2 separate regions of the Homo sapiens genome follow, and region 1 is linked to region 2. Evidence: fine-mapped expression QTL. A gene starts in region 2. The other region holds a variant in brackets. All regions are shown on one strand. Distances are between the middles of the regions.

Region 1 (5,380 bases), 21 kb before region 2:
GGCAGATGAAAGTAAGATTTCTTACAGTCCCAGAAGGGACTTGCTACAGTTGTAAGCTACTATGTGAGTTATACACACCCATTTGTGACCTTCTTTTACTCACTCAACAATGGTGTGAGGTGGGAATTTCTCTTACATAGCAGAAGAAATTGGGTCACAAAGAGACTAAGTAACCTGAACAAGGTTACAACGAGGCAGAATGACTCCAGACATCCTTTCCCTGTGCAATACTGGCCAAAGCATGTCACTCTTAATCCCATGTCTTGGTGAGCAAGGTGGAGGGACAGACATTGCAACCTTGCTTCTCCTGAGAGGAAGCATGTCACATTCGCTCTATTTCTTCTGCAAAGCGGTTTACCAGCCGTTCCTCCCTAGGTGCTAATAGGGAGGAAATTTCATTTCAGAAAAATATTTTCACTCAATAATCTCTTAGAAATGATATAACCTAGAGAAAGTAATCCAACTTTGGTCTCTGATTCTATTCCCGAAGGCATTCCCAAGAAGGACATCGTTTAACACCTAAACTCATTTAACAAAGGATCCGAGAAGAACAGGGACAGTGTGGGAAGAAATCTTCTTGTGATGGCATATTTGCTTCCTATATTTCTTCTGGAATCATGTTCGCTTGGCTTCCTGATTAAAAACACAGTTTTATTGCTCTCTGCACTGCCAAACCAATAAATTTACAGAAGAGAAAGCTGTATTCCACTGTACCCCTTGCAGCATCAATAAAACTGACAGCCAAATTCTGATTCCAGAATCTTTATTGCTGGGGATAATGCAGTGCAGAACATATTTTGGAGAGTGTTTACATAAAAGCTTCAGCAGAACACTTCAGAGCTGTTTATTCATGCAAATGGAGCCCAGAAGCTGAAGTCTCTCAGCAGGCAGCCTCCTCCTCCAAATGGGAGCATGGTGTGACTCCCAGAGGAGCAGTTTGGTTCAGATTTGATCAGGGAGGTTGCCTGAGCTTTTGATTGATGTAGGGAGGAGGGATGAGGAGCAAAGGTCGGACAGAAGTGCAAGAAGCTGTAGATCATGCAATGGCAGTCTCCAGTGGCTACAGAAGCAGCCCTGGTGCAAGCTGAAATTTTGCAGCGTTGATGTTGATGCTGCAGAGCAGGAAAGGCAGCAGTGGGGAGAGTGAAACTAGAGCCTCCCCTATAAAAGAGACACCAAGTGAACAGCAGGTGACTTTGTGGATATGGCTGGGTCAAGAAAGAGTCCTGGGGGCCAGGGAATGGGGAGAGAGGTGGGGTTAGGCAGGTGCACTGTGCTTTTCACAACAGATGTGTTCCCATGAGGCAACACAGAGAATGTGGTCCTGTGAATCGAAAACCATTTTCCCTACAGACTTATATGTTTTTTTTTTCAGAAATGTCACATCTTCATTTCTGATTCGTCTTTGATGGGTAGCAGTTCCTAAGCATTCAAGTATCTGTCTCCAGAATTTATTAATAAAGTTTATGATTTGTTGATAACTGTTTGAATGTACTCCCTTTGAAGGTGTCCCACTCTCTATTGGATGCATCTATGATTCTTTCCATGATGCCAGAAACTTTTAGCAATGTGAACAATGATCTTAATAACCCTGCAATTCCACTCCTGTATACATTGAGAAAAATTCTCAAATTGATACTTAAAGGAATCTTGTACAAACGTTTTCTTCACAGCATTGTGGCATCAGGGGCTTGGAGGCAACCTGGGTGTCCATTACTAGGTGAGGGAGTATGTAAAATTTGGACCGTACACACCTAACTGAATAGGAGAGCCTGTAGAAGTGAGAGTCTAAAGGCACACAGAGTAGCATGGGTGGATCTTCAAATCATGGAACTGAGAGAAACAAGAAATTACGGAGATATAATATACTGTTTGCAGAATTAAAATATATGTAAACGAAACACTAGACATTAACCTCCTCCTGCACATGAACATACACTAGGATTGTTATCTAAGGTGAGTTGAGAGGAACAGAAGTGGGAGAAGGAGATAAAATAAATAACTAAAAACAGAGAGGGACTTTGAATGGACTAGTGATAATGTTACTTGAATGAAGAAATATGACCAACTTAACCCTCTGTACTAGAGAGACAAATGGAAAATAAAAAAGGTTTATTTTGATGTATTGGCAGCCTGCTTGCTTACCTTTCTTCCTCCTCCTTCCTCCTCTCTCCCTTCTTCCCTCCTTCCTTTCCTTTCCTTCATATTTTTTTGGAGTTAGGCATACTTGTATTCCAATAGTTTTGTGAACTATTGTGGAAAGGTCTAGTCGGTATCATTTGATATAGAGCAGAAGCCAAGGAGAACTGAGGGCAAAAATGCCTAAGGCAAGGACAGTTCAGCAGCTCTGCTGTCCAGGGTCAAAAAAGGAATGAAAGCTATGCATAAAGCAAAGAAAATAAAGGAAGGACAGAGCCCTTTCTGTCTCAGCAAAAGAGGGTGATACACCACAACTATGCACCTCAGATGGGTGGTAAAGAATTAGGGTTACTGGGAAAATATGAGGTTGAACTTGCAGGGTGGAGATTCTCTCTTGAAAGGTGAGACGGCTGTGGAAAAATATGGCTGTAGAACTATGCAGCTACTTAAATTTATTATATTTTCACAGTCTTTTTTGCAGTTTTGAACTTTTGTTTTTAAATAAATTGATGAGGCAACGCAGGTGGCACCTTGCCCAAGTGCCTTTGCCACAGATGTTGAAACAAATGCTTCAATTGGATTACAAAGTCTGCGTTAGCTTCATCAGCTT[G/T]GAACTTCCATCTACTCATTAATCTCATCTGCAGGTCCCCAACCCTTCTAGTTGTGTGTTAAAGTTGAAATCGAAACAGTCTGTCCTCCTTAGGGCTGGAATTAAGTCATTCATCCTAGTACTGGGATCTTGTGATTGGTCATGACTCTGGCGAGGCTTGTGCATCGTCTAAACTGGACCCAATAATATTAATATTTGGGGGCAGGAGTGCACCTGCAGTGCCTTCCCACATGCTATGCTGGTGTTTGTTTTTGTCTCGATTTCTTATTCTGTAGCTTGCTTGGTCTCCCCAGAATCCATCTAGGAGTAGGGCTTCTCTTAGTTCCTGCCTTCTCTTTTTCTCAATCACCAGATCCTGATCCCTGTATCTCTACCCCTTAGGGAACACTGCTGCCCTAGAACAGTTCCTGGTTGCTGTCTGGTTAGGGTCAAGCTAGTATCTCTTACTGCTTAGTTCTGACTTTCAAACTGGGCCCCTTGGCACAGACGGTGACCCTGTGTTAGGACTACCCAGTGGAGTTGGGTTACTTTCTGTAGTGGATACTGTGGTGGGCTACCCAAGTCACTCTTTAGTACTGACGCACCAATTTCGCCAACTGCTAGGAAAGAGTGGGTGGCTGAAGCTCTCAGCTGAGTTGCTCTCCTAGAATTATGCTTATAGACTGATGTGGTTTGGGTCTGTGTCCACCCAAATCTCGTGTCAAATTGTAATTCCCAGTGTTGGAGGTGGGGCTTGGTTGGAGGTGATTGGATCAAGGGGGCAGATTTCCCCTTTGCTGCTGCTCTTATGAGAGTGAGTGAGTTATCATGAGATCTGGTTGTTTAAAAGTGTGTAGCACCTCTCCTCTCTCTCTTCCTCCTGCTCTGGCTACATGAAAATGTGCTTGCTTCCCTTTTGCCTTCTGCCATGATTGTAAGTTTCCTGAGGCCTCCCTAGCCATGCTTCCTGTACAGCCTGCAGAACTGTGAGCCAACTAAACCTCTTTTCTTTGTAAATTACCCAGTCTTGGGTATTTCTTTATAGCAGTGTGAGAATGGACCAATACACAGACCAAGATTGCTACCTCACCCAGGATTATGTCTTCTCTTTTGGGCAGCCCTCATCCAGTGACTGGACAATGTATAGAATAAAGGCCCAGCCCCCTTGCCTCCGGGTGGGACTACTCAGAAGGACCATCCTATCTTTAGACCTTCTTCCTATCAATTCTTACCTGGGCCCTGACTTGATCCCCTTCCCAGCCAAATCCAATTGCCAAGCACTCAGTGCAGCTGTGTCAGAGTCCAGTGACAGGAAAATTTACAGCATCCAGATAAATCTAATTACCTTAAAGAAGATAACGCCACCTTATCATGTCCTCCCTGGTGGTTTCTAATGTCTCCTGGGTACCCAGGATTGGGGCTTGGGCCCCTCTTCTTTTTTCTTTTGAGTTTAATGACACAGATGGCCTTGGAAGGAGCCAATTTGTCCAGTTTAATTTTTGTTAACTAATCCTCAAAGTAATGTTACCTGGAGAGCTTCAGTCAGGTGGGCTCTAGTGTCCCCCTTTAAGAAAATAGAAGATTTGTTTTGTATGTTATATATATTAAAAATTTTAAAAAAATCTGGAAATCCTTGCTTATAAAAACCTATCAATTGGGAGACATATGCACTATCAAATATTTCTTTGTTCTATAGATGGATTTACTGCAGGGTTGCTTTAAATAGCAAACTCCCTGGGTGAATGGAAAATAGAGTTCAATTGACACACTCTCTCTTTTTAAGGACAGGTATTGCATAAAGCAAATTATAACTGTAGGTTTCTCACCTCCCCTTGGTTTTTCAGAGCTTGAATACAAGATGTTTCCCAGGGCAGGGAAGCCTTCTGATGCCCTCAGGCTGAGGAGGTGCAGAGGGAGAGAAGAGCCAGGGAAGAAATGCAGCACCAATCTGGAGTCTCCAAAGACTGTATAGGCTCTTTGGTCACTTGCCAGAGCTTTTACTTTTCCTTCTGCCCAACACATGGCAGAAGTGAAGTGTTTTTATTCACTACCTTCTAATTGTTGTTAAAAATGCCAACTATATTATTGATTTAAGAAAGCTACAAACATCCATTCATTTTCCACAGATAATGAGTTTATTGCTAGAGCTATATCCTGAATTCTAAAACACTACAAAATCAGATGAAGGGAAAAAAGAGAGAAATCAGAGAGTTAAAGCTTTTTTGCCTAATGAACTTGTTGAAATGGGAAGAGGTTTATTTAATTATTTAAATTCAAAAGAATTTGGTGTTTTTGTATTTATTAAGATCTTGTTCTACACTTAACAGTGTCTTAAGAAGTTCTGTGTTCTTTTCAAAGCTGCTCACAATGATAATAAACTTGCTTTCATCTTAGAATAAAATAAAAATAGCTTTCCTCTTTTGAAATGATTTTAAATCTTTGAGCTGTCAAAGGCATCGGACTATTTGGTGGCTTCATTACAGGGAATGTCTTCACTTATTGGCCTATTGTCTTCAGCATTTACCTAGAGGGAGCTGAGGCTTCAGTGTTAACTGAAATATGAAGTCAGTATAGATGAACATCCAATATGTTACGCTTTACACCAGAAAACTTTGGAACAGTCTTTAAAAATACATCCAGGTGGTTTTGATT
Region 2 (5,380 bases):
GGCGGGGGGGGGGGGGGGTGGGGAAGGGAAGTGTATGGCACAAGGACTTTTAAAATATACTTTTTCCTCTCTAAGATGATACCTCCCTGGAGAGCTGTGCCTTGGTTCTCAAACTTTAGTATGCATCAGAATCACCTGAGGAGCTTGTTAATCTGTAGCCTGCTGGACCCCACCCCTGGAGTTTCTGATTCAGTAGGTTGGGGCTGAGGCCTGAGAATATGCAGTCTAACATTTCCCAGGTGATGTTCATACTGCTGAGCTAAGACCATACTTTGAGAAATATTGCCTTGAAGTAACAACCCTCCCTTTGCTTAACATGCACCTCTCTTGTCATATGGATGTTGGTGTCACTATGTTGTGCCAAAAGTTACCCTGTTTTGGCCTGCATAGGCTCAACCTCCACAGAGTGACAAGGGCATCTCTTGAAAGATGAGGGCATCTCTCAACCATCTGGTGCTCAGGAAATGAAACCTTGTGAGGGTCACCACGCTTGGCTAAGGAGGCTAAATGACTGGCAGAGGATGTTCCTGGTGGTGGATGCTCAGGGTCTCTACCCCCAAACCTAGTCAGCCCTATCAGATATTTTTGAGGGGTTCTAGGATTCTTGAAACCCTGCTGAAAGGCAGCAGGAGAAAGTGGGATTTTTAAAAAAAATTTACTTCAGCCTTTTCCAGGGAAGGGGGTCCCCTCCTGAGAACAGCACGTGGCAGCAGGAGCCCTTGAGAGATCTTACTGAAAAGCTGAATTGAAAAGGAACTGGGACTTGGCCCACCCATTCATGCCCCCAGTGGGAGTTCTTTGCTCAGTACTAATTTTGGAGAAACTGAGTGTGTGTGTGTGTGTGTGTGTGTTTTATTAAGAAAGCAGTAGTTTTTCTTACAAAGATGAGCAAATTTAAAAAGATAATTAATAGATAAAATCCTGAATTGCTATTCAATAGCTGTGAGACCTTGAGCAAGTTATTCCTTCTCCTTGGATCTCAGTTTCTTCTAATCTGTATGATAAGTAGCAGGCAAGTGAGAAAGTCTGTTAGTAGTACAGTCATTCTTAAGAGCAACATGGCATGCTTGTCAGGGACGGACCAGGGCTGGAACTTGGAAGGCCTGTTGCATGGATTTGTGGATTGATTGAAACAAATTCTATCAGCATGGTCCATTCCTTCAGGGAATGGACCTGACAAGATAATTAATGGAAACTAATTAATATAAACCCCTCAACCCTTTAACTGTATCTCTCAACCACAATTATTCCCAGAAGGCCTTTAACTTTTCCACATGAAGAAGCCTGGCCTGGCAGGGAGGGTGAGTCTCCTCTATGAAACAGCCCGTGACAGACTGTTGGGGGCTCAAAGGAAATGGCAGAGGGGGTGGTCTCCTTCCTTCCCCAGCACAGAATTCCATCATCTCTAATTGTTAGGACATGATCAAGACCTCTACCAGCCTTTTAGATACTCTTGTCTTTTGTCTTTTTTTCCCTTTCTTTTCTTTCCTTTTCTCTTTTCACAGCTGTATTGAGATGTAAATCCTACACTATAGAATTTAAAGTGGACAATGCAATTGTTTTTAATATGTTCACACGCAACTGTCTCTACAATCTAATTTTACAAAAATTTCACCACCCCCCCGCCCCAAGCCCATACCCACTGATTAGTAGTCACCTACTGTCCCTCCCATCCGCTTCCCCAGCCCTGGTAACTACTAATCTACTTTCAGTTTATCTGGACATTTCATGTAAATAGTATTATAAAATATGTGGTACTTTTTTTTCTAAATAGGAGAAAGGAGACCTGATGACACCCTGATAGTCTAGTACTAAAGGCTCCCCTTCTCCTCTTTACCCCATTACTCCAGAAACAACGCCCTCCCCCAGGTTGCTGATGTATACAATCCCTCAATCAGGCCTGTGAGTGTGGAGGTGGTGCGCGGGTGCCAGCGGCAGGGCACAGGGCCTTTGGTCCATTAGACCATGAGACTGAAGTTCAAGCACATCTGGGCACGGTGGAGCAGCGGCTTGTGTGCTCACTAAGATGCCCGTGTGACTGCCAGCAGTCAGTTGACAGATTAGGTCACCCTTGGCCATAGGGCCTGAGCACTCCATTCCTAGAGGACCACAGGGTGCCAGAGCTCACATTCACCTTCCCTGACGTGGCTGGCCCAAGGCTCAAAGGCCTGTAAGACTTCTCTGGCAGAGACCCCTGCCAGAGGAGTTGAGGAGCGTCACACCCATATTCCCTTCAAGCAGCGGCAGAGAGCAGGCCTTCCCCTGAGGTTCCTGAATAGTTCTACTCCCCCGGCCACAGCCCCAACCAGGGGTAAAGAATGGGGCTGGGGCTCTCAGAGGCATGGGGTGGTAAAAACAACCACCAAGTTTTGGGTTCTCATCACCCTAAAACGTGGGGGAAATTTGATAGGGCAAAGCGTTTTTCTCCAAGCTTCCAGGGAAAGGGGGCCAAAGGAGTAGGGAGGGAAGGTGGCATAGAGCGATGGAGGGTCCTGCATCAAGGGCGCCGCGACGGGAGCGCTGTGTACTCACAGTCGAGTGAGACCGGCCGTGGGGCCGGGGCAGCGCAGGGCGCCGTCGGGCACGCAGTTGCAGGGCTCAGGGCAGAGCGCCTCGCGCAGCGCTCGTGGCAGCGGCGGCTGCAGCAGCAGCAGCAGCTTCAGCAGCTGCAGCGCCGAGAACCGCTGCTTCATGGCCGGCGAACTGGGCTTCTGCGGCTTGCCAGTGTCTTGGACGGCCTCTGAGTGCGGCCCGCACCCCTCTCCCCGCCCCTTGGCTGCCCTTCCACACACCCTTCCCTGCCGGCCCGCCCCTGCCCTCCCCCTCTTACCGCGCACCCCGCTGAGTCTGCTCTGCCTTGACCTGCGACAGTGCCCAGTGACCCAATAACCTCCTTCCTGCTACTTTCCCCTGTCTTGTCCCCTACCATCTGCAAATGGCCCTAGCTATAGGAGGTAAAGAGATTTAATGGCAAATGTTTTGGATTAGAGGTGGGGAGTTCTGAATTGAGTGAGTTGTGACGCTTCCCGGAACCCCTTTTATTTCATTTGTGAAAGGGTCCGATGGATACTCGCTATACCCACATCAGAAGGCGTAAGAGTGCCTGGCTCAGACATTTTTCCTCTCTTTTATCCTCAACCCCTAATCCTTTCCCCTTCTCTTTCACCAAATCCCTCCACTCTACAAGTAATCTTTGCCCATCCTCCCAACTACCCCAGTAATTTCTCTTGGTGGTAAATGCTTTCTTATTTATGGTATAGCTATTTGGCTTGGTCCTGTATCTCTTCTATAGATTGGGAGGTCCTTGAGAGCAAAATCCAATTCAGATTTATTTTTGTATTCCTTCTGGCTTCTACATGGTAAGTCCTCAGTAAAGATTTGTTGAATGAATGAATGAAACTGCCTAATACTGGTAGCAGCTGCCCCATAGAAGGCCCAGGATAGGCTAGACCTTGTAACAGGTGCTCTGCCTCACATCATGTTTAAGCTCCACATTGAACTAGCAGGGTGTTTGCGATGAGAAAAATGTCCCAAGAGGTATGTGGCTTCCCTGAAGTCACACGGTTTTAAAGTAGTGAAACCTGGAACTCATGTCTATCACCTACCACCTCTCACCAATGCAAAAAGCTGCTATGATCTACATACCAAAGAACTTAGGAGACAAAATTTTACGGTAATCATGGGGATCCATAATATCCCCTCTTTGATTTGATCATTTCTTCCTTCCAAGGATTCTGTTTGGATTCTGGAAATCCTAGCAGTTTTGCTGGAAGAGGTGGACTTTGAAAGCTGGGAAGGCATTTAAGGCTTTGAAGAGAGGAAATATAAGAATAGATTTCTTTCACTCTGAAGCCAGTTCTCAAGGATGGGCTCCTTCATTCACCATTCTACAGTCTGTTGCTCAAGGAGGGTAGATTATTATTATTTTAAAAACTTGTTTGGCTTTGGCCACATTGTGCTAGATGGCACAAAAACAATGCTCATGTCTATAATATTGTCTTCTCTGGATCCTCTCTTCAACTGCTTATAGATGACTCCTCACCCTTTAATACCTCTGCATGGGCTGTCCCCACTATTTTCTCTTCTTTTTCCATTATTCCATTAGATAAACTCCCAGTTGTCCTTCAAGACTCAGCCCAATGTCATTTCCACTTTGATTCTTCTCTGAGTCATCCTAGTTGAGTAGTTGTGGCCATAACACCTGGTTCTACAGCAGGTAATCTAACACACTGTAATTGTGGGTTTAATTTTGCTTTCCCCTCTCTATTCATCTCAATATCAACAGAGCATGTCATAGCTTCTAGCTCCTAGTAGGTGTTCCATATGTGTCTGTTGAATAATAGAGTGAATAAGTGAGGCCCAGATTTGTAGTAGATGCTCAGTAAACTATCTGAGAAGAGCTTGATACCCTCACTTGCTTTATTCTCAACCACGCTGGATCTATCTGGATATGTAAAAAGTAATTATACATGACGACTTTGGGTGTCATGTTCTCTGTTCTCTTTTAGTTTTGTCAGATTTTGGTAGGGAAGTTGGGGTAGGCACTGGGATTTTTAAAAGTTTTCACCATGTATCTTGAATGGAAGGAGAGAAAGAATGAATAACTCAAGGTGCCTGAATGGCTTTTCTTTCAAGTCTCATGTTTTATGTGACTTTTTTCTTTTTTTAACCCTGTAGTGTACCTGTTATATATAAAAAAAGTTTGCTCCCACCCACCCCTGAATCTTTGAAAACAATGGATATTCCAGAAGAATCATTTAATTCTGTACTCCAGTAGGAGGACTAGGCAATCAGAACACTAGGATTTTCCTTCTGTTTCTGCTGTCAATCATGAGATTTGCCCTTCAGTCTCTTCATCTGTAAGAAGAAGGGTTGAAGTTCACTATCCCTAAGGCTCTTCTGGCTCTAAAGATGCAAGGACTTTCTAAGCAGCTCCTACAGAATTGCTAGTGGGAGGAATTGGATTGTATATATTGACTTCTTATAACTTGTCTTGGATTGGAAATAAAATCCTGTTTATGAGGAGTTGAGGTTGTTCGTTTGGAAGAAAGCTAACAACTGTAATGAGTTTTCATAAAATTTTACTATCTAGATTAATTTCAGTTGGATCTTAATTATCACATCAGTTCTTGCAATGTAACTATTATAATAAAATCATATTGATTCATTTGTTATAATCACAAAAGTTTGTTACAATGGAATTTACCTATCTTATTCATTAATACTCATTATGAGTGAGTATTTTTAAATCCAAAGGACTTTGTTTCATTAACTATGCTTATAGCTACTTTGTCAGAGAACTTCAAACCAACATGACCCACAAAGATTGCTGATTACATTTTAATGACAAAATAAAGTTCACAGAATTCACAAATATTTT

What was found.
Region 1: its variant is fine-mapped to the expression of LHCGR in visceral fat (GTEx, PIP above 0.99). The same link has a PIP of 0.9 or more in subcutaneous fat.

The regions. Positions count from the first base shown.
Region 1 is chr2:48,732,403-48,737,782 of GRCh38, forward strand. The region is part of intron 10 of STON1-GTF2A1L (STON1-GTF2A1L readthrough); the gene reads left to right. All of the region lies in intron 1 of LHCGR (luteinizing hormone/choriogonadotropin receptor), which reads right to left. Among named protein-coding and RNA genes, the nearest start is that of LHCGR, 21 kb to the right of the region's middle. The variant G/T (reference allele first, on the strand shown) is at 2,750.
Region 2 is chr2:48,752,979-48,758,358 of GRCh38, forward strand. It overlaps LHCGR (luteinizing hormone/choriogonadotropin receptor), which reads right to left and starts at 2,746. Exons shown (of 11, transcript NM_000233.4): 1 at 2,533-2,746. The coding sequence starts at 2,693. The region is part of intron 10 of STON1-GTF2A1L (STON1-GTF2A1L readthrough); the gene reads left to right. RefSeq lists an enhancer at 2,304-3,080.